Homo sapiens: one gene and its partners. The protein of the gene in region 3 purifies or fractionates together with the protein of the main gene of each other region. This does not show direct contact. Each region holds a gene or a part of one and is shown on either strand. Other genes may lie near its edges. The genes, in order: FRMD1, RELT, LRBA, CAST, SFSWAP, KIF15 and CAPN5.

Region 1 (4,002 bases), on a different chromosome or scaffold from region 3:
AAGGGATCCCCACATCTTCCATAGTGAACAGCTCTACGTTTGCTGTGGAGAGAAAAGAGACCGCCACTGCTGTCTTGGGCACACATGTGTGGCCTCGAGGGTCTGGGAAGGGTCTGGATCTGAGCGGAGGGAGGGAGGGAGGGAGCCAGTGTCAGTCCAGGGTCCGGGGGAGGTGAGGCCTAAGCCTCCTAAATCTTCTCAACCCACCGGGCCGGGCCTTAGGGCGGCTGGAGTGCGAATTTCCTAAACCCACCGGGCCAGGCCTTAAGGCGGCTGGAGTGCGAATTTCCTAAGATGAACAACGGCCCGTCCGGAGGTCCAGACCCCTTACTAGAGGAAGGTCCCAGAGCATCCCAGACTCCATGGCAGGAAACTGATGGAGCTCACGGCTGAGGACAGAATTCCACAGCCCAGGCCCGTGGGAACTGCCTCTCCTGACCTGCAGCGCCCAAAGGTCTGGGTGGTCCCAGGGCCAGGCAGGATCCTGGGGTCCCTTCCCCACCTAACACTGTGCCAAAGAGCTCGAAGGCGTTGCTCATCTCTGCTGAGCGGCCTCAGGGGTTCCAGGCCCTGCGGGAGATGTCCCCACCCCTCGTGCTGATGCACCCGGCTGCTGTCCACGCAAGCCAGGACCCCCTTCCTGGCCTTCCAGCTGCTGCAGGCAGGAAGGGATTTGCTGGCCCTGGACAAGGAAGGAAGTGTCCTCAGTTTCCAGCCCCTAAAGGGAGCCAGGGTCCCTCCTGGCAGAACCTGTCCAGGAACGGCAGCTGTGCTGCTTCCTGAGGTCGATAACAGATGCCACAGGAGGTGTGTGGGGCAGGGTGCCCACCCAGGCTGCCTTCCTCCCGCCCTCCTCGTCCTGCCCTGCTGCTGCTCCATCTTCCCCAGCAGCCCTGGCTCTGGCATCTGTGCCCATGGGGTTTGCATAGCCCTCTCCACATTATAGAAGAAGGAGCAGGCACCCTGAGGAGATAGGGGTTGTCAGGTGGAGGAGTTGGGTCCTGTCTCCCCCAGCCTGGTTCTCACGGGGCCCACACCGAGGCTGGCTGCTGAGCTACCCTGCATGGGAGTGCTGCATGGCGGGTGCCCAGCCTGAGGTTGTTTATTTGCATTCCTGGCGCCCTCCACACACCCAGCTATTTGCAGCTCTGACCCTTGTCCTGGCTTGGCCATGCTGGATTCCCAGCCCAGGCTTCCCTCTCAATTCCCTTCCCAGTGAGAAGCTCGGCAAGGGCGGGTCCCGGAAAGCACAGCTGTGATCTGGGAGGTGCTGAGCACCCACCTGCGACCCATGGCGGGGGAGGGCCGAGTAACGACAGCATGGCGGTGCCCCCGAGAGGGAGGGGCATAGACCCCGCCCGGACAAACCCTGACACGTTCCCTCCTTCAGGGGCGCGATGTATGGAACCCAGTCCTGAGAGGCCTGCATGCAGTCAGCAGGAGCCGACCCTGGGAATGGACGCGATGGCCTCGGAACACAGGGATGTCCTCGTGCTGCTGCCCAGCCGGGAGCAACTGCGGCTGGCCGTGGGGGTGAGCAGGGCCCTGGGTGGCCGTGGGGGTAAACAGAGCTGTGGGGGTGAGCAGGGCTCCGGGTGGCCGTGGGGGTGAGCAGGGCCCTGGGTGGCCGTGGGGGTGAGCAGGGCCCTGGATGGCCTTGGGAGTAAACAGAGCCATGGGGGTGAGGAGGGCCCTGGGTGGCCATAGGGGTGAGCAGGGCTGTGGGGGTGAGCAGAGCCATGGGGGTGAGCAGGGCCCTGGGTGGCCGTGGGGGTGAGCAAGGCTGTGGGGGTGAGCAGGGCCGTGAGGGTGAGCAGAGCCGTGGGGGTGAGCAGGGCTGTGAGGGTGAGCAGAGCCGTGGGGGTGAGCAGGGCCGTGGGGGTGAGCAGGGGTATGGGGTGAGCAGAGCCTCAGGACACAGCCTGTGTATGGAAAGTCCCTGGACCGCCTCACTCTGCTTAGGCCAGGTGTCTGTGAGGTGTCAAGGGCCAGCCCTTTCACTGGGCCTGTGAAGGAAACATCCCTGATAGACGTTGCTGTGAGAAATAAGTTTATGGTTCAGCACATCCTTCCCGGGAGGGAGCGCTGAGGGAAGAGCGCCAGGAAGCCGGTTTCCAAGGAGCAGCTCCTGTCTTGTGTTCAGACGTCACCATCTCTATGCTTCTCTATTTCCTTTTCTTTTCCCTTTCCCCCATTTTGTCTACCTGTTTTAGTTGAGTTCATGGCGACAGGAGTTGAGATGGTACTTTCATTTTAATGATTAATGTGGATAATGAAAATGTGGCAATTAAAATGAGAGTGGTTTGTTGAAGAACGATGACTTTCTGCATAGCTAATGTATCATTGCTACCTGGAATGGAGTATGACTTGCTAGTAATATCCTGGTTCAAGTCCCCTGGGAATCTGGGAGTCTCTTGTCTGCTTCGGGATAGAGTTCTGTGTTTACGTAAACGCCCACATCTATGTTTGTGGCAAAATCTTCCCCAAGACTCTGTGTCCCCACCCAGCAACGAGAAGCTGGAGTTGAGCTAATGGGGGATGTCCTGTAGTTTCCTGGGGTCCCCAGCAGTGCCTCGGGCTGGGGGAGGGGTCATAAGAGGACCTGTTGTGGGGAAGATGCTGGGGCTTTGGCCCCCTACCCCATAAGAGCTGGAACTTTTAGGTTTCTTGCACGGAACTTCACGGTAAGATTTTAACTGAGGGATCATGCAGCTAGAACATAGTGAACCGCCTGTTCTGAACAGGTGAATCGTGCTCATCTGCTTTTGACGGAGCTCCCTGAAGTGCCTCTGCAACTCCTGTGGCCCCTGCTGGGCCTGGCAAGTTGGCAACCACAGAGCCACTTCCTATCGGGGTGTGCGCACATCTGTGTCTGCAGTTGGACAGGAACCCCTCACTGGGTTGTGCAGTCATCTATGTCTGCAGTTAGACAGGAACCCCCCCACAGGGTGTGTGCACATCTGTGTCTGCAGTTGGACAGGAACCCCTCACTGGGTTGTGCAGTCATCTATGTCTGCAGTTAGACAGGAACCCCCCCACAGGGTGTGTGCACATCTGTGTCTGCAGTTGGACAGGAACCCCTCATTGGGGTTTGCAGTCGTCTATGTCTGCAGTTAGACAAGAACCCCCCCCCATCGGAGTGTGTGCACATCTGTGTCTGCAGTTGGACAGAAACCCCCTATTGAGGTGTGCACACATCTGTGTCTGCAGTAGGAGAGGAACCCTCTATCAGATGTGCATGCATCTGTGTCTGCAGTAGGAGAGGAACCCTCTGTTGGTGTGTGCACACATCTCTGTCTGCAGTAGGACAGCAACCCTCTGTTGGGGTGTGCATGCATCTGAGTCTGCAGTAGGAGAGGAACCCTCTGTTGGGGTGTGCATGCATCTGTGTCTGCAGTTGGACAGGAACCCTCTGTTGGGGTGTGCACGCATCCGTATCTACAGTTGGACAGGAACCCTCTATTGGGGTGTATACTCGTGTGTATCTGTAGTTAGACAGGGAACGCTCTATTGGAGTGTGTGCACACCTGTGTCTGCAGTTAGACAGGAACCCTGTATTCAACCAAATATGTGTCAAGCCCAGTTATTCGAAAGGGATGGGCTGGGAAGACCCTCACTGAAGATCTGTGTTACCGTCATTGTGGGGCCTGCCCCTCACCAAGTTAAGCAGACAATAATCATATTAGTCTGTTCTCACGCTGCTAATAAAGACATACCCAAGACTTGGTAATTTATAAAGGAAAGAGGTTTAATTGACTCACAGTTCCACATGGCTGGGGAGGCCTCAGGAAACTTACAGTCATGGCAGAAGGCACCTCTTCACAGGGTGGCAGGAGAGAGAATGAGTGCCCAGCGAAGGGGGAAGTGCCTTATAAAACCATCAGATCTCATGAGAACTCTCTCACTATCATGAGAACTGGATGGGGGAACCACCCCCGTGATTCAGTCACCTCCCACCGGCTCACTCTCACAGCACAGGAAGATTATGAGAACTACAATTCA
Region 2 (2,288 bases), on a different chromosome or scaffold from region 3:
GGGGCACTCAGTTAAATTGTTACATAGGGCACAGTAGAGAGGCCATGGAATAGCAGTTTGCTGTAGATTTGGGGAGTTCTGGGTAGGGTGGCAGCCCACAGCTCCTTGAGGCTGAGGAGGAGACAGTGCAGACCCAGAAGACGCTGACGCACCGCCCCCTCGCCCGCCCAATTCAATGACTGGAGTTCACGTGGCCCTGAAGCCTCTATGCACCCGGGCTGTTGGGTGCAGGAAGCACTGGTGTTGAATCATGAAGGTGATATGGGCTTCTCTGAGCCTGGATCCCACATTTGCAGGGCTCTGGGAGGCTTGTCACCTAAATGCACATGCTCAGGGCCCTTAAGAAGGCCAGGGTTGCCCTCTGCTGGCAGATCATGGTTTAGCTCAGGAGTGCGGCTTCCCCCTCTTCCCCAGGATCAGGGCCCTTCTCTTCCCCAGGAATCAACCCTGCCTACCGGACTGAGGATGCCAATGAGGACACCATTGGGGTCCTGGTGCGCTTGATCACAGAGAAGAAAGGTGAGGAGAAGGTCTGACCCCATCCCAGTGCCCAGGAGAGGAGGGTTTCCTCCAGGAGCCTGTGAGGCAGCCGCGGTGGGCAGAGTCTTGCCCTGCTCTGCCTTCCCTGCCAGGGTGCCTCAAGCAGCCTGGTGCTCTCTGACCCAGGAGTGCACACCTCTGCCTCCCATTCTTGCCTGATGAAGTGGGAGGAAAAGGCGCACAGCCCAGGCTGGGAGTGGTGGTATGGAGGGTAGGTGGGGGGTTCTCTGCTGGGGCAGGGGGTGGGAGGTGTGTCCCATATGGCCACAGTGAGGGTCTGACTGCAGCTACCCACAGAGAATGCTGCGGCCCTGGAGGAGCTGCTGAAAGAGTACCACAGCAAACAGCTGGTGCAGACGAGCCACAGGCCTGTGTCCAAGTGAGTGGGCTGGTGGGAGATAACGGGGCCAAAACCTACATTAACCAGCCTGCCTCCTGGGGATCTCCCACTTGGGTCTCCCTCAAGTCACCCTGTTCCCTGCTGGGGTCTCCTGCCCCTGGCCTGGCCTATGGCCACTTCTGCCTGTGCCCCCTGCAGGCTGCCGCCAGCGCCCCCGAACGTGCCACACATCTGCCCGCACCGCCACCATCTCCACACCGTGCAGGGCCTGGCCTCGCTCTCTGGCCCCTGCTGCTCCCGCTGTAGCCAGAAGAAGTGGCCCGAGGTGCTGCTGTCCCCTGAGGCTGTAGCCGCCACTACTCCTGTTCCCAGCCTTCTGCCTAACCCGACCAGGGTTCCCAAGGCCGGGGCCAAGGCAGGGCGTCAGGGCGAGATCACCATCTTGTCTGTGGGCAGGTGAGATGGGCACAGATGCAGCAGGGGCAGGTAAAGACGTGACAGCCTGGGGGCCGGGAGGGGGAGGCAGGGCCCCAGCTTGGGCCCTGAGCACCCTGCTCAATGGGAGCCCTGCCCTTATTGGGCCTCTCTGGGCAGTGGAGGCGGCCAGAGAGATCAGGACTTTCCGGTTATGTTGTGTCTCACATGGAGCCCTTGCATCCCTAGGGCAGCATCTTGGCCCCCATGGCACCCGGGCCTCTCAGGCTAAGGCTCTGGTCCATGAACTTGCTGTGTGACCCCGGGCACGTGCTGCCTTCTCTGTGCCCCGGGATCCCCGCTAACGGGGATGATTGCCCCACTCTCCTCACAGGTTCCGCGTGGCTCGAATTCCTGAGCAGCGGACAAGTTCAATGGTGTCTGAGGTGAAGACCATCACGGAGGCTGGGCCCTCGTGGGGTGATCTCCCTGACTCCCCACAGCCTGGCCTCCCCCCTGAGCAGCAGGCCCTGCTAGGAAGTGGCGGAAGCCGTACAAAGTGGCTGAAGCCCCCAGCAGAGAACAAGGCCGAGGTGAGAGTCAAGGAGAAAGGCATCTGTTGGCACCTGGGCCAACCCTGACCGAAGACGGGGCAGGGGTGGAAGTGCAGCGGGCCCTAGGCAGGGGCCACTTTCCTGGAGCCAGAAGCCAGCCCCTGACTCAGCTCTGACCCCTCACCCCTGCCCACCAGGAGAACCGCTATGTGGTCCGGCTAAGTGAGAGCAACCTGGTCATCTGAGGGGCGGTCTAGTCTAAGGACACTGCGGCCCTGCCCTGGGAGGTTCCGAAGGCTTCCTGGAGGAGGTGGAGCTGCAGCTGGGACTGTGAGGACCGAGAAGCAATGGCCCAGCAGACGAGACAGCAAAGACCAAGGCCTGGAGGTGGGAGCGTCTGCCCCAGTGAGGAGGCAGGTGGCCGGCGGGCACTGTGTACA
Region 3 (3,500 bases):
ACCAAGCTTATTTCAGCTCCAAGGCCTTTGCATTTGTTCTTCTCTGCCTGAAACTCTTTTCTTTTTACATGGCTTGCTCTCTCTTTTATTCTTGCCTTTGTTCAAATAGAACAGAGAGGCCTACTGCAGTTACACTAGTAAATACACCTTCTCGCCTAGACTTTCAGAACAGTTCTTCACTCTGTACTTCCCCCTCCCTTCAAAGCTCTTATTACTATTTGACATTATCTTACATATTCGTGTGTTTATTTTCTGACACCTTCTTTAGAATATAAGCTCCATGAAGTCAGGAACAATGTGTTCATCACACAATGCCTGGCCTGCTACCGATGTTCAGTAAATTTTTGTTGAATGAATATGAGGAATTGGTCAATTAAAATACAGAACCCATGTCAAATAAAATATTGGCATTGTGAATGTAAAAGAAATTGATATTTTGTTAATGTGATTATGTCATTTTACTGTTTAGTGAGGAATACATGCATTTATTGTTGAAATATTATAAAAAGATTTCTAAGTTTTAGAATTAAGAACATAGTTACAATGTGGAAATAGTTACAATTAGGAAAAATACAAATATTCACAGGAAAATATTCATTCCCTGAACATTTTTATTTTTAGGTATATCACATGGCATGAATGTTCTGTATATGTCATGAGTAAAGGCGAGTTAATGTCGATAGAAGGAAATTTTTGCATTGAGAGTCATTTTTACTTTTGTTTGCTTTTCATCTGTGTGTATACTCTTGTGATTCAATAAGGCCTATTGATTTTTGTGGATAAAAAAATCAGCTTTTCTTCCTTGATTGTCCTATCATCCTCTTATACTATGGCTCAATAAAGATTTATTGAATGAATGTTCAGTTTACTCTATATAATAATGTAGATTACAGAAACAAACACTTTTGGGATTAATAAACTATAATTAGGCTAATACTTTCTGCATGTGTTATAGGTTTTTCTGGCATTTTTGTTGCAAGGGGTGATGGGGGTTACCATTGAAACACCAATGGAAATCATATGATGGTGGCTATAAGATAATCCTTAGATTTTAAAAATTCTAAATCTTGTGACATTAACAAGTACAGCACTCTCTTTAAAAAAAAATTTACTTTTTCAGTTTTTTCCCATTTGGGTAAAAGGCAAAGCATGATATAGGAATGTTCACGGTGCCTAATATATTGTAGTCACTCAGATATAAATGGAATGAATGGATGTATGGATGGATCAACTGAAACATTCAGACTATTTTCGACCAGTTCAAACTTTGGAAATTATGGTTAACCTTTGGGGGAAGGGCTGGATCTTTTTTCTCCCATTGCTAAAAGAATTTGTATTCATTGGCTTAGTGAGATAATGGTTTTGTAGCTTAATAGATATCTGTAGAGCTACTGTAATGGTGAGCATAATTAATTGATATTTTTAATCTCTCCTGCGGACAAGTCCTGGGGAAATTGGTATTCATAGCGGTTGAAACAAGTGTTATCCAGTGCATAAAGCACTTCCCAATGGTACATACTTAAATTCTGGTACAAGTTATGGTGGCCAGTAGAATAGTGTATCCTTTTCCTATACATGTTTAATAATAGGCTAAATAATTATGTTCTTCTTGTGGTTTCATGCTGTGTTACTTGTTAACATTAAAATTGGCTGTAGTTTTTAATGAATATTTAGATTTCTGTGATTGACTTACATTTATCATTCTACTAAAATAAAATATAGGAAAATTAAGTTTTATTGTATTATATAAACTATGTATTTGAAAATTATTTAGTTTTATATTTTGTATTCTGTCTTCATTTCTCATGCATATTTTAACTGATTGTACATTTTTCACCTAGGTCACTTTTGAAATACACAAAGAAAACCTTGCCAATATATTTAGGGAACAGCAAGGAAAAGTTGATGAAGAAATAGGGCTGTGTTCTTCAACTTCAGTTCAAGCAGCCTCTGGCATTAGAAGGGATATTAATGTTTCAGTAGGATCCCAGCAACCAGATACGAAGGATTCTCCTGTCTGTCCTCATTTCACCACAAATGGTAATGAAAATTCAAGTATAGAGAAGACAAGTTCACTAGAATCTGCATCTAATATTGAACTGCAAACTACTAATACATCTTATGAAGAAATGAAAGCTGAGCAAGAAAATCAGGAGTTACCAGATGAAGGCACTTTGGAAGAAACACTGACAAATGAGACAAGGAATGCAGATGATTTAGAAGTATCTTCTGACATAATAGAAGCTGTGGCTATTTCCTCTAATTCTTTTATAACAACTGGCAAAGATTCAATGACTGTCAGTGAAGTAACTGCTTCTATAAGTTCTCCTTCAGAAGAGGATGCCTCAGAGATGCCAGAATTCTTGGATAAATCTATAGTAGAGGAAGAGGAAGATGATGATTATGTGGAACTGAAAGTAGAAGGCAGTCCTACTGAGGAAGCTAATCTACCCACAGAGCTCCAAGATAACAGTTTGTCTCCAGCTGCATCTGAAGCCGGTGAAAAACTGGACATGTTTGGTAATGATGACAAATTAATATTTCAAGAAGGAAAACCTGTTACTGAAAAGCAAACTGATACTGAAACTCAAGATTCTAAAGATTCTGGAATTCAGACTATGACAGCATCAGGGTCTTCAGCTATGTCACCAGAAACTACTGTTTCCCAAATAGCTGTAGAATCAGACCTTGGTCAGATGCTGGAGGAAGGGAAGAAAGCAACTAACCTCACTAGAGAAACCAAATTAATTAATGATTGTCATGGTAGTGTCTCTGAGGCTTCTTCTGAGCAAAAGATTGCGAAGTTGGATGTTTCCAATGTTGCTACAGATACTGAGAGGCTGGAGTTGAAGGCCAGTCCCAACGTGGAAGCACCTCAACCTCATCGACATGTGCTTGAGGTGATTTTATATATTGTCTTATTCAAGTACTTTTGCACTGAGTTAAAAAAGAGCAAGTGTATATACTTAAATTTTATTTTATTTTGAATTTGGTTCACATGCTATTCACAACTAAATAAATGCAATGAATGTGAAGATTGTATTTCAGATCATTAGCACAGTGTTTGGCAGTTAATGTGAGTTCATTAAATGACAGTTTTTATTACTATTTTTACCATAGTATCACCAGAAGTTACCACTTTGAAGGATTGGTATAATTTTAGTTTATAAAACAAATATTGGAAACACTTGCATTTTACCTTTTATTTGACTAACCCAATCCTAGTACATTAGTTTTCCAACAAACTCTAGGGCTACCTACCTGCCAGTGTATAATTTTAGTTACTAAGCATGTGATTTAAAATTGTATTATGAAGTCTATAAGAGAGAGGAGGCTTTGTGAGATCTAGAGGCACAGCCTTCTCCTCTGTCCATATCTCAGAGTGACCCATGAGACAGTGCTTGGTAGCATGTTGTCATTTTCCACTTTATTCAATTCTTATCCTCTGTCCCACCCTCCTTTTTTTTGTTTTTGTTGGTTGGTTCTTCATTATGTTATCT
Region 4 (3,500 bases), on a different chromosome or scaffold from region 3:
AAAAGTTGAAAGAATAATACAATGAATGCCCATATTCCCCCCGCTCAGATTTCAACAACTATTAACATTGTTGCCATATTTTGCCCTATTTGCATACACACACACAGGCATACATACAGACACAGAAAGAGAGAGAGAGAGAGAGACAGAGAGAGAGAACAAGAGGGCACTACATGTCTTTATATACCTGTAATGGAAAGTAAATCACAGACATCCTGAAATTTTAACCCTAAACTTTTCACCATGCATCTCCTTAAATTTGAGAACATTTTCCCAAATGGTATTGCTATATACCCAATACTATTATCACCCTAAGACAATTAACAGGTATTTCCAGTAAATAACAACTTTATCAATTAACCATTGCCCTGATCATTTATTGAAAATTATTCAATATTCAGCAGTCTGTTAATGATGTAAAGTCAATTGTATCTTTTCACTGAGAGAGATTCATGAAATAATTGAGTACTTTTCACATAACTGAGAGGATGGAATGAAATACTTGGGAATGACATATGTCAAATTCGATCCAGCTCAGGAATCTGCAGGCGTCTTTCTAAAGAGCGAAGAGAGAAAACTCTGCTGACCACTACTACGTGTAACTGCTGGGTTGAGGAGAGTGAGATGAGCAGGGAACAGGGAAGGATTGACAGCTGGGGAAAGAGAACTGAACCACAAAACTAATTACAGAAAAGAAATTAACACCTCCTAAGCATCTGCTCTGTGCTAGGCCCAGTGCCAGGCATCTCCTATGTGGTCTTCTTTGCTACCCATAGCAGCTCTAGGGAGTACCCACTGTCGCCTTGGTTCATGAATAAAGCAACTGAAGATCTGAACAGCGATGTTCTCCATGGTGATACCACTCAGGATTACATGGGCCAAAGACTAGGCTACTTTGGATCTAGTTAAAAGCTAACTAGGATCTTAGGATTTTCATCAAGAAAGTCTTTAGAGCATGCGGGTGATCTGAAATGAGAACAAAACAAAAGGCACGAAAAATAACAAAACATGAAAACTTCCTATTCTAAAACTTGTTTTATAAATGAACTGAACACACAATACTGTCCTGTATTGGCAGCTAGAGAGGAGGCCAAAGACAGGAAGAGCAGGACAGGATGCCATAGTAAAGAATTTCACTGGAAGGACAAGGCCATAGAAGACAGGAGACTAGATGGGGGCTAAGATGAAGGTGGTATGTGCTCCAGAAGCTCAGAGCCAGAGAAAAAAATCAGATCAAGGGCTTTGCTATCTTAACTCAAGAAGGAATAATTTTCCAAACTGTTTTCACCCCCTTTATCACATAGTTGGCAACTACAACTGTCGTTTGTCCTCATTCTAGGTGACAGCCTCTATACGTTTAAAATCTGCCATAGCAAACCCATAAATCTGAAAAAAATCAATAAGAGCTAAGTGCAATAAGGCTCAGAGCCTGAGCTCTCACCCAGCTAAGGGCTTCTGCCAGGGCAAGGTTCAACTCTGCCACATTTGGGCACCTGCCCTGTTGTTACCCAGATACACACAGATACATAGACAGCCAAGGGAACATGTCACACAAAACAAGATAAAAATCAAAGAAACTAGGCCGGGCACAGTGGCTCACGCCTGTAATCCCAACACTTTGGGAGGCCGAGGTGGGCAGATCAGGAGATCAGGAGTTCGAGACCAGCCTGGCCAATATGGTAAAACCCTGTCTCTACTAAAAATACAAAAATTAGCTGGGCATGGTGGTGCACACCTGTAGTCCCAGCTACTCCGGAGGCTGAGGCAGGAGAATTACTTGAACCCAGGAGGTGGAGGTTGCAGCGAGCTGAGATCGTGCCATTGCACTCCAGCCTGAGTAACGAGCAAAACTCCATCACAAAAAAAAGAAAAAAAAATCAAAGAAACTTCTTCACATATAAAAGAAGCAAGAAGACAGAAAAGCAGCCCTTGCCAGCATTAAGTCCAGCTGTGAAAAGAGTATGAAATGCTAGTGTGCTTCTGAAATGCCTTTGCTTTATTATTATTATTTTTTAAAGTATGAGGCTTCTTTTAGGAGGAAAGGAAAACATTCTAAAGTAAAATTGTGCTGATGGTTGTGACCACCCTGTGACTATACTAAAACATATTGTATCATATGTCTTGGTGGGTGATTTATTTGAAAACTTAAACATTTTCCTTCTTCAATGTGGCGACAATTTCATCGAGATAGTATTTGCATGTCCAGGGACAGCTGTGGAAAAATCATGGAGCAATAAAAGGTTATCTTGATACCCTCTGGACTCTCCGAGCTCATGGAACTCAGCTCTCTACCATCACACACACTGAGAAAGGCTTCTACCAGGGGCTCCTGAGGATCACAAAGACTTCAGGTTAGCAGTGGGTCCCATCCTTCAGTGCCTGTCACAAGCACCTGGGAAGCTTTTAGAAACATTTGTGTCAGGGCACAGGGATTTAGATTTAGTTTGAATAGAATGGGGCCTTGCCATGGATAAATTTTTCTAAAGTTCCCCAGATGATTCCAATATACAGCCAGGATTGAGAACCACTGGTTTTGGGGGAAGATTTATGGGCACCATGATAGGAAGCGGAAGTTTCCGCTCCTCAAACCATCCCACTGAGTCGGCACCCATGGGGAGGTTCCCAGGGTCAGGCAGACTGGGGTGGCTCTGGGCTCCTCCTGGGTAAACTCTGATTGGTCAGTGAAGCAGCACAGTGCCCTATGTCTACACCAGTGTTTCCTGTCAAATTCTGAGCTTTGCCCTATTAATGGAGTATCATATTTTCATATTTGCACATTAATCTCTATTTTCTCAGTAAATCAAACAAATTAGCACTTTATTGTACACTCTCTTGCTTACTGATTACTTTATAAACTTACATCTTGCCTTCCTAATCACAGGGTAAGTTATATCCTTTTTTTCCTAGATGTGTGGTAGGACCATAACAAAGAATTCTTGATTGAATGACCATGTTCCCACAAACCTATAAACATTCCCTGAGAAGTAATTTTGCTCTTTTCAGATCAGTAAACTAGACAAAAGAGAAAGAGGCCAAGAAGGTAGCTTGAAAAATTAAGAGACAATGTGCAAATTGGTATTTCCCACAAAAATGCCTTAAAATATATTTGTATATGTATTCTACTTGCTAAAGCAAAATTATTCAGCAAACAAGCAGATGGACCAAAGCTTCTGTAAAGCTGGTTTTGCTTCAGAACAGTCTCCCTGGGTGCAGATCCTAGAACTGTCTGCCTTCAGGTGGATTCCTTGTTCCACTTCTGCTGTGTTCAAATTGTAGTGGAACTTTGCTGGCTGCAATTCTCTTGATGGATGGCCTCAAGTTGGGTTTAGCCAACAGCAGGCGCTGCCAGGAGACTAGAGGTGGTGGGTGGGTGGTATTCCCTTTGCCCCACCCCCTCCTCCAGTAGCACCTCCTGCAGGATGGGTTGGCTGTGGTTCCAGCTTCTGCAAGGTGACCCTTGTCCTCCCTGTGTCCCTCTAGACTAGGGATGGTAGCAGCTT
Region 5 (3,500 bases), on a different chromosome or scaffold from region 3:
AAAATAGGCTTCGTGTTAGATGATGTCATCCAGCCGTCAGCTACTGTAGGTGCCCTGAGCACATTTAAGGCAGGTGAGGCTGTGCCATGGTGTTCGGTGGGTTATAGGTGGATTCTGTGCATTTTCCACTTCACGGTGTTGTCAGTGTATGGTGGGGTTGTCGGGAAGTAGCCTCGCTATAAGCCCAGGAGAATCCCGGCATGTCGTGGCAGCCTGAGGACAGCAGGAGCCCCTTGGCACACTGTGCCCTCCCCCGTTCATGACTAGTAATGGCACAGTTATTGTAAAGCTGATGTGGCTTTTGCCAGCCCAGACTTCAGTTTGTAGACTACAGCCCAGCTTGTAGATTTTATTTCTGTTGTCACCCTGTACTAGTCCAGAAATTCTTAAAATTTAGTGTTCACGAGAATTGCTGTGTACAACATACAAGGGGCTGTATACAAAATCCCTGTGTCCTATAGTTGGTAGTCAGTTTAAAGGGCTTCAGTCCAGTTAAAGGGTTCTGTGAGCTGTATGGTGCCACCATTGTGTGCGGCACGTGTCAAGCAGCTTCATGGTCACTGCAGGATATTTTAGCACTGAGGCATTTTAGAAGCAGTCCAGGCCGTGCCACCAGCTGGCATGAACTCACTCATTAAACACTTACTGAGGGCCTGCTCATGCCAGGAGCTGTGTGAGCGGCTAAGGTTTTGTGGTCACTATTTGGAGATATGGAGTCCTTGGGAACATAGCTGCACACCAGTCCTAGTGGCGCAGGAGTTGCCATAGGGCGTTGTTTACAGGGTCCCCACGCGAGCCCAGAGCAAAGGCCTCCTGAGTCTGCCAAGGAGGCAGAGGCTTCCCGAAAGAGGTGGCACTGGAGATAAGCTGAATAGGGGCCTCATGGCAGGCAGAGACCCTGTGAGGCCGTGCAAAGGACAGAGACCTGGGGAACAGAAGCCAGGGCAAGGGGTGGGCTGGGCAAGCGGCAGAAGCCCTTCGGGAGGCTGGCCCTGGGCTGCTCCAGATGACTTGTGCCCGTCCTGCCTCCCACCAGGGCCACAGTGTCTGGGGAAGGATGGATCTGACGTCCTCCCTTAGATCTTCACATCCCTGACACCCTATGAAGTGAGAATCTGGGAGAAGCAACCCAGGAACGGTGTAGCGGAATTCATGAACCACTGTGGTGTTGGTTCCCGGGCTGCCTCCGAGCATGGCAGTGCCATAGGACACGTCCCACATTCTCTGTCGGCAGACAGAGAAGTGTTTTCATCTCATCAAGCAACACATACTTTATTTCTCTTGGAGTCCTTTTGAGAGACAGGATGATTTTCAAATTTGATTAAAACCTTGGAGAGAATCACAGGTGTGTGTGGGGAAGAGGTGACAGCAGCAGTGGCTAGCAGCAGACCGCCTCACAGAGGCTGCGCGTGTCTCGGCTTCACAGCTCTCCTCTGTGAGAATCTCCTGGGTCTGGGTCAAGGGTGTGCCCAGAGCATTGTCAGCCTGAGTGGTTTTTAGCGTGGAGCCTCTGAAGCAAGTTGTGGACCTAGGCTAGGATGTCCCTGGAGTGTTTTCAGATTTGGGCATTTGTTTCATTTTTACACCTACAGGCAGCCTTTTTTTCTTTTTGTGAGCTCAGCTCAGGGGCTCACTCCATCACCCAAGCTGGAGCACAATGGTGCCATCAACACCTCACTGCAGCCCCAAACTCCTGGGCTCAAGCCATCCTCCTGCCACAGCCTCCCAAGTAGCTGGGACTGTAGATGTGTACCATGCCCAGCTAGTTTATTTTATTTTATTTTTTGGAGATGGGGTCTGATGGTATTGCCCAGGCCTGAAGCATCCTCCCACCTCAGCCTACCAAAGTGCTGGGATTATAGGTGTGACCCATGGCACCCAGCCTAAATTTTTCAAATTAGCTGACATTTTTGACATTTGTAGTGGATGAGTCTCTGAGCAGTCTGCCATTTTGCCGGCACTGCTATTTTTTTTAACACTTCGTTTTTATTTAACAAGATGGAAGGCTCAGGAAGGTCATATAGACTAACAGTCTGCGTGTTCTTTAAAGGAATGGCGCTCAGCTTTGAAAACAGTTTCTTCATCTCTGTTGTGTTCCAGTGTGATTGCACTTTACACAGTTACATAAAGAATGCAGGTATCAGGTTGGAGCTGCATAATATGTACTACTAGTTGAAATAATTATAAACCGTTTTGTTTTGTTTGTTTTTGTGAATTCAGATCCCGTCCTTTGTGGCCCCAGTTTAAAACATGTTTGGACACTTTTTAGGGGTGAGACTGACTGTCCAGAGCAGGACATGGGGTTTCCGTCCTTCCTGCTGAGGTGGGAGGCTGGAGACCTGACAGTAGCCAGTCGGTAGTGGGGTCAGTTCCGCCTGGCCCTCCCCAGAGCTAAGCACACACTGGGCTGCACTCTCTCCCCTGGAGTGCTGGCTTCGCCCTGGCTGAGAGGAAGCATCCATACATAGTAGCCTGATGGCTCCAGCAGGGAGTGGGTGGAAGCAGCAGCTCCCCCCTTCCAGGGATGACGTTGTCTCTTACAGAAGCACATGCTTATATTCGGATTCCTGATTTTGATAGGAAGCCTATGTTGGACCATCAGGTCAGTTCGTTGGTCCAGCACATACTCTGCTCAATGCAGAGGCTGCAGAGACAGTGAAGACAGGACCTGCCGCTGCAGGAGCCTCAGAGACGGTGCCTGCCCTGCTGTCAGCCTCCCATTGACATCCAAGGGTCTCATCCCCTGCTCCCGGCCTTTTCTCAGAAATGTTGCTCAGATATATCTGTGTTGACGATAATGTGGAGCACATCGAACCCACTTATCTTATTTTGAAAATTTGGAGTATTACTGTTTCTGTGTCATGGTGGTTGGTGTGTAACATGGAGCTAGAGAACAACGGTTTAGGAGTTCATCATGTATAATTAATTTAAATAAGTCATTAGCAGCTGGGGAATATGCCTACAGCACATAGGAATTATGCTGCCTCGCCAATCTAAGATGGAAAGGTCAAGATAGTCTAAGTTGTACTTCTGAAATTTTTCTCTGCATAGCATACATTACTGGAAACCATAGTTAAGCTTTTACTGTTTTTCAATGTTATTGTTTTAAGGTGAATTGATTGAAAGTGAAGATAAAAGTTCTTAATTCGAAAAATATTTTTGCCATCTCCTAATAAAGAGGAAATTAAATCTCTGTGTAGTCAGAACTACTTGCTTATCTACAACAGGACTGGAAATTAAATTTCGTAATTAATCATTGAATCTTCTGTGATTCGTGGTTCTGAACATTTAACCCCAAAAAGGATAAATGTACAGGATTTTTAATTGTTAAGACAGCGTGCCTCTACCCTACAGATACCTGCTTGTGTGCACAGCATAGGTGGCAAGACGGCATACATCACTGTCTGTGATGGAAAGGTCCAGACACAGCCTCAGTGCCCCTGGGAACTTTTATTTACTGAATAAATTCCTGCACAGCCTGTGTTGCTGGGGCCGGGGGC
Region 6 (2,482 bases), on a different chromosome or scaffold from region 3:
TATAACTACACACCTAGGATGGCTGCAGTAAAAAACCTGACAATAACAAGTGTTGGTGAAAATGTGGAGAAATTGGAATACACTGTTGGTAGGAATGTAAAATGGTATACCTAAATGGTAAATTTGGAAAACAGGCAATGTCTTAAAAAGTAAAGACATGCTTTTCAGATAACCCAGTAATTCTACTCCTAGGCATGTGCTCAAGAGATATGAAATATATGTCCACACCATGACTTACACATGAACATTTATAGCTCCATTATTTATAATAGTCCTAAACTGGAAACAATTCAAGTATCCATCAGCTGTTGGATGGACAGTGTAGCATATCCATAAAATGGAATATTTGTCTCAATAAAAAAGAAAGAAGGCCCAATACACAGAAGTTCCTTGAGGGCAAGATTTGCTTTGTTCACTGATGATTAGTGCCTGGCATATTGCAGGTGTTCATTAAGTATGTGTTCAATGAACAACAGAATGAACAATGTAAGTCACTTTAATTATTATCTTAAAAAATGGCTTTATTTACAGTCATGGAAAATGCTCAAGAAAATACCTAAAGTAAGAATACAAAAATAATCTATATTAACAAGTTTGCTTCTTGTACCTGCTACTAAGTCAGTCATTAAACTCACTGCAGGTGTTGGAACCACCATATATTGTTAGAACTTCCATAAGAATCAAAGGAGATTATGGCATAATCTAAGAAGAAAATGATCTGGCTAATGTCCACTGTAAACCTTAGCTACAGGCTTTTATTTTTACAAAGACAAAAGGTTTTCCCTTAAGTTGATTCAAAGCCTTGAAGTAGGCCACTTAATAGCAGACTGCTGACTGTCACAGGGTGTATATGGATGCAGAATGTTCATCAGAAACTTGAGGTGGTTACCACCACCTTATAAACATTTAATAATTAAGGTCCATAAATTCAGCTCTCCTAAGTGGCCAGGAGTAGGTCTTACTTGTAAAAGAGAAGAAACATCTTCAAACAAGGTGATGCCTAGGTAGCTGACCGGAATCCTCAAGATTCACTTCTTTTCTTTTCTTTTAAAAATACATTTTCGGCACGCAACTTTTCTGTCTCCTAAGTAATTTTAAAAAAACAAAAAGAAAAAAAATAAGGCTCTAATTCTTACAGGAAGTGGTTTTTTTTTGCATTTATTAGGTGTATATTTCAAATTAAGACTGGAATTTTCAATGTGCAAACTAAACGTTAAACAAGAATCTGCTGTCTATGAAATGCCACTGATTGAATTAGGCTCAGAATAGCAACGACCAACTTTTTTTTTTTTTTTAATTCAGGAAGCTCCCTGAAGTAAGCAGTTAACTGATTCAATAATTAAGTTTTAATTTGGTTTCAATAAAATAATCATTTTTAAACCAGACAGAATTTATTCAGAATAATTTTTAGGTTTACCTCAGCAAGCCTGACATTTTCCTTCTTTAGTCGCACTACGTACTGAATCTTCTGATGCAAATTTTGGTGACCTACCAACTTTCCATTTTCCTCAGCAAGACACTCCACCTGCTTCCTTAACATTTCCATCTCCTGCAGGTAATCAATCCAAGGAGGGAAAAATGAGAAGTAGGTCTTAATTTTCTTTTAAAGTCACATTATTTCTTGCCTTCCAGGAGCACAGGAAGTCAGAGAGTCCAGAATCCCAGCTTTCAAGGCCTCACAACTCTTCATACAATAAAGCAACTCTGAACTAAGGACACCCAATCACAAAGTGAGTTTTACGCTAATTAGTTCTATTCATTTGAGTGTTCTAAGTATCATGAAAACACCAACACACTAGCACACCTGGGATGTTCTCTCTCTTTCTTCATACATTTCTTCCAGCTTTGATCTCAGTTGTTCTTTTTCCTGGAATGCTTTAGACTCCAAAGTTTGGGTTCGTTCGACTTCATCAGTCATTCTAAGGCATTCCATCTCTTTGTTGTAAAGGGCACTTTGGACTTCTTCTAGGCTGTAGGAATAGGTTATCACTTTATAGTATTTGAAAGAAACATAATCATAAAACAGTGCTCAAGTTAGACATGTGTACTGCAAGGCCAGAATTTTGATTTGAAAGTATTACTAATCTTTAGCCCTCCTCTGCTGATGGCAAAAGAAGACAGTAAGTGCTACATACCAGATATGCTTTTTTTGGTTTTGTTTTACCCAAGACTTTCATTTTGGAAAACTCCTCAAAACATTTTCTAAACAAAAAAAATTTAGAATAAAATTGTTTAGATTCAGCCCACTTGGGGCAAATGTAATTTAAGTATTATTATAATCTGCATGGTTTATTCAGTATCCCCTATCTTGATCATTTCTGATTTCAAAAACTGGTCCTCAGACAGTGGGACACCAGTCATTTCTTTCAATTCATTTCTTCAGTTGTTTAGAATTTATACACTTCATGTACATTTCACTGACTTTATAAAATGATCTGAATCCTGTAAGTTTCCCAAAACAAATGCCTACTTCACCCCCCAC
Region 7 (3,500 bases), on a different chromosome or scaffold from region 3:
TGCGCAAGGTGCGCCTGGGCCACGGCCTACTGGCCTTCTTCAAGTCAGAGAAGTTGGACATGATCCGCCTGCGCAACCCCTGGGGCGAGCGGGAGTGGAACGGGCCCTGGAGTGACACGTGAGGCCTGGGGATGGGGGTGCAGGCACAGGGCATGAGGGCTTGGACAAGGACGGGTGGGCTTCTTGGAGGAGTTGGCACTGGGGCTGGGCCTTGAAGGATCTGGGGGAGGATGACACTAGGAACGAAGAAGGGAGAATTACTTTGCAGTGGTTGTATGGGGTGATGGATTGAGCACAAGAAAGGCCTGGGGCTGGAGGCCATCAGGGGTGTAGAGACCAGCTTGGTGAGTGGGTGCGGGAGGGGAGCAGGGAGGGAGGCCACAGCCCTGAGCAAATGGGGGACTCCTCTGTGCTTGGCTTATGGCCCTGGTAAGGCCAAGATGGGAGTGGAGCCCAGGTGCTAAGTGAAGGAGCCCTCTTCACTGGGGGTCGCACCCCCCTTCCCCCCAGTCTGCAGCTTTACTTTCAGACCTCCCAGCCCCTGTCATGGTGGCAGCTCACGGTCCCTTGTGGGAGGAGACAGGCAGGGCTTCCTGGAGAGGGGCTGGGCATGGCCTCAGTGCCCCTGGCCACACCGTGCCGCTGGAGGCCTGGTGCAAGACTGCCCCTCGTGCCTCCTCGCCTTTGCCAGACAGATTCTGGTGGGGCTGCCTCTTAGACAGCTCCCTTTCTCCTCCCCGGCCCTGACACCCCAGCTCGGAGGAGTGGCAGAAAGTGAGCAAGAGTGAGCGGGAGAAGATGGGTGTGACCGTGCAGGACGACGGTGAGTTCTGGTGAGTGTGTATGTGCCCTGGGCGTCCGGGGCTGAGGGGGCTTCCCACGGGCCTGGCGGGGAGCACCAGGTGGGGAGTCAGGAGCCAGGCCTCTCCTGCATGCCCCATCATCAATTTGCTGTGTGGCCTTGGACAAGTCACACCATCTCAGAGCCTGTTTCCTCCTCTGTAAAATTAGTTGGGCAGTACCAGGCCCTTTCATCCCCACAGTCCCCTCTGCCGAACTGAGGGGTCCTGGAGCCGCTGTGGCACCCAGACCGAGCCTTTGGCATGCAGGTCAGGGAGCCGTCTAAGAGGTGGGCCCACCAGGATCTCCCCGGCAAGGGTAAGGAGGCATGAAGCACAGTCCAGCACCAGCAGTATGGTGTGGCCAGGGGCACTGGGGCTATGCCCAGCCCCTCTCCAGGAAGCCCTGCCCTCAGCCTGCCTCCAGGGGCCCTCTGGCAGCCTGATTTCTGAAATTAGGTAGCAGAGGCTCCTAGAGGAACTAGCTTCTAAGCTGAGACTTGAGGTACAGAGTAGGCCTTGGTGGGCAAGGAAGAGGACGTGGCTCAGAGGTGAGAGAACACAGCTGTGTTTGAGAAGGGAGCTAAGCAGGTACATGGGTGAGCTGGGAAGATGACAGCAGCTCAGCTTAAAGAGCCCAGTAATTGGCTGGGTACAGTGGCTCATGTCTATAATCCCAGCACTTTGGGAGGTCAAGGTAGAAGGATTGCTTGAGTCCAGGAGTTTGAGACCAGCCTGGGCAGCATAGTGGGACCCCATCTCTACAAAAATGAAAAATTAGCTGGGTGTGATGATGTACCCCTGTAGTCTCAGCTACTCTAGAGGCTGAGAGGGGAGGATTGCTTGAGCCCAGGAGGTTGAGTTTATAGTGAGCCATGATCGCACCACTGCACTCCATCCTGGGCTAAAGAGCAAGACCCTGTTTCAAAAACAAAAAGAAAAACCCCAGTAGTAATAAAAGTTCATCCTGCATTCATCCAGCCTGCATGAGTCCTGAATGTGGGCTAGGCTCAGTGTCACCCTTCAGCAGAACCTGATATGGAAACTCAGTCCCTTCCTGGAGGGGTATTGGCATCCTGTGTGTGCTGGATTCTGTCAGGGCCCCCAGGCAGACTGGGGGCAGATGGCAGTGGTCCTGGCACCCAATGATGAACCCTTCTGCAGGTGTCAGGTCAGCTGCTGCAGGAGGCCACCCAGGCCACTTTGCCAGTCTTGCTCAGGAGTCAGCAGATAAAAACACGGCAGAGCTCCTTGCCTTTAGAAAGAGTTTCTTCCAAAGGCCTTTCTCTTACATGTTCACGGTTAATTCACTGCCCCCTGCCCCCACCAGCTCCCTGGAGGCGTTCACAGTGTGCAGTGACCATAGCAACACCCTGGCCACCGCAGCAGGCTCACCATGGGGTTCCCACCATCCACTTACTCAGGCCTCTCAACAGCCATGGAAGATCCTGGATGCAGATGTGCTTTATAAACTGTACAGGGCAGCAGACAGTAGTTATTAACACCATTCACAATAGTAACAGCCAGCGTTTGCCAGTGCGTGCTCTGTCAGCCGAAAGTTGCACTGCCTGCTTTGATTGCATTACCTAATTCCTTCACTAGCTCTGAGATGGGCACCTGCTGTTAGATTCAGCCTCATTTTACAGGTGAGGAAACAGGTCAAAAGAGAGGTTAAGGGTCTGTGCAATGCCATGCCTGTGCCCTTGTGTGGGCTTAGCTCCCCTCTCAAAGCCAGCTGTGTTCTCTCACCTCTGGGCCATATGGACATATTAGGTTGTTGGGCTGGGGGGCCAAGAGCCTGGGGAGGTGTGGGGGAGGTACCCTGCTCAGCCCCTCCCCACATCCAGGATGACCTTCGAGGACGTGTGCCGGTACTTCACGGACATCATCAAGTGCCGCGTGATCAACACATCCCACCTGAGCATCCACAAGACGTGGGAGGAGGCCCGGCTGCATGGCGCCTGGACGCTGCATGAGGACCCGCGACAGAACCGCGGTGGCGGCTGCATCAACCACAAGGACACCTTCTTCCAGAACCCACAGGTGGGCGTTCTCAGGAACCCCCACCCTGCCCTGTAGCAGCTGCGGGGTGCCTTGCCACTGTCCTGCCAGGGACTCCTGCATGACCTTGGGTAATCCCTGTCCTTCCTTGGGCCTCAGCAAACCTGTCTGTACAGTGGGGGTTAGATGGGCACATCCGTCCCATCTGGGGGTCATGAAGCCCCCAGCCTCACAATCTAACCTGCAGATGGTAAAAATGAGGAAACCGCGGCTCTGAGGGACATTTGGGTGTCTTGTTCTGAGCTACAGGGACACTTAGAGGCTGAGCCAGGGACTCAGCCCCTTGTTTCCACAACAGCACAATTCTGTCCCTTCTGGGAACTTGGCTGGGCTGGGCTTCCCCACGGGGCCTCTCCCCACAGCCTCCTCAGTCTGACCCGTGGCGCTGCTTAGCCCTGGTGCTTGGTGTGCCTCTGTTGAGCACCACCTGTGTGCCAGGCTCTGTGCAGAGTGGCCACCCTGGCATTGAGTTTCCCCAGCCTTCATGCAGGGTAGCCATTGCAGGCATTGGTAGGCCCACCTCACAGCAGAGGGACCAAGGCGCAGAGAGGTGCTGTGACTGGTCCAGGCTCTGGAGTCTGAGCTTCCGGGAGCCAGCCA

The links.
Region 1: the proteins of LRBA (region 3) and FRMD1 purify together in Homo sapiens (co-immunoprecipitation; one large-scale study listed by IntAct). This does not show direct contact.
Region 2: the proteins of LRBA (region 3) and RELT purify together in Homo sapiens (co-immunoprecipitation; one large-scale study listed by IntAct). This does not show direct contact.
Region 4: the proteins of LRBA (region 3) and CAST fractionate together in Homo sapiens (co-fractionation; one large-scale study listed by BioGRID). This does not show direct contact.
Region 5: the proteins of LRBA (region 3) and SFSWAP fractionate together in Homo sapiens (co-fractionation; one large-scale study listed by BioGRID). This does not show direct contact.
Region 6: the proteins of LRBA (region 3) and KIF15 fractionate together in Homo sapiens (co-fractionation; one large-scale study listed by BioGRID). This does not show direct contact.
Region 7: the proteins of LRBA (region 3) and CAPN5 purify together in Homo sapiens (co-immunoprecipitation; one large-scale study listed by IntAct). This does not show direct contact.

The regions. Positions count from the first base shown.
Region 1 is NC_000006.12:168,076,413-168,080,414, reverse strand, and holds the start of FRMD1 (FERM domain-containing protein 1), read left to right. Parts: upstream 1-1,202; 5' UTR 1,203-1,320; coding exon 1,321-1,533; intron 1,534-4,002.
Region 2 is NC_000011.10:73,393,399-73,395,686, forward strand, and holds part of RELT (tumor necrosis factor receptor superfamily member 19L isoform 1 precursor), read left to right. Parts: exon of another isoform or gene 1-207; coding exon of another isoform or gene 208-256; intron 257-414; coding exon of another isoform or gene 415-438; coding exon 439-519; intron 520-827; coding exon of another isoform or gene 828-837; coding exon 838-919; intron 920-1,078; coding exon 1,079-1,336; intron 1,337-1,688; coding exon 1,689-1,887; intron 1,888-2,045; coding exon 2,046-2,093; 3' UTR 2,094-2,288. UniProt on the Homo sapiens protein: May play a role in apoptosis. Induces activation of MAPK14/p38 and MAPK8/JNK MAPK cascades, when overexpressed. Involved in dental enamel formation.
Region 3 is NC_000004.12:150,851,285-150,854,784, reverse strand, and holds part of LRBA (lipopolysaccharide-responsive and beige-like anchor protein), read left to right. Parts: intron 1-1,841; coding exon 1,842-2,900; intron 2,901-3,500. UniProt on the Homo sapiens protein: Involved in coupling signal transduction and vesicle trafficking to enable polarized secretion and/or membrane deposition of immune effector molecules. Involved in phagophore growth during mitophagy by regulating ATG9A trafficking to mitochondria.
Region 4 is NC_000005.10:96,668,876-96,672,375, reverse strand, and holds part of CAST (calpastatin), read right to left. Parts: intron 1-3,500.
Region 5 is NC_000012.12:131,749,090-131,752,589, forward strand, and holds part of SFSWAP (splicing factor, suppressor of white-apricot homolog), read left to right. Parts: intron 1-3,500.
Region 6 is NC_000003.12:44,851,275-44,853,756, reverse strand, and holds the end of KIF15 (kinesin-like protein KIF15), read right to left. Parts: intron 1,971-2,482; coding exon 1,805-1,970; intron 1,550-1,804; coding exon 1,418-1,549; intron 1,085-1,417; coding exon 1,022-1,084; 3' UTR 501-1,021; downstream 1-500. UniProt on the Homo sapiens protein: Plus-end directed kinesin-like motor enzyme involved in mitotic spindle assembly.
Region 7 is NC_000011.10:77,115,471-77,118,970, forward strand, and holds part of CAPN5 (calpain-5), read left to right. Parts: coding exon 1-118; intron 119-755; coding exon 756-833; intron 834-2,686; coding exon 2,687-2,882; intron 2,883-3,500.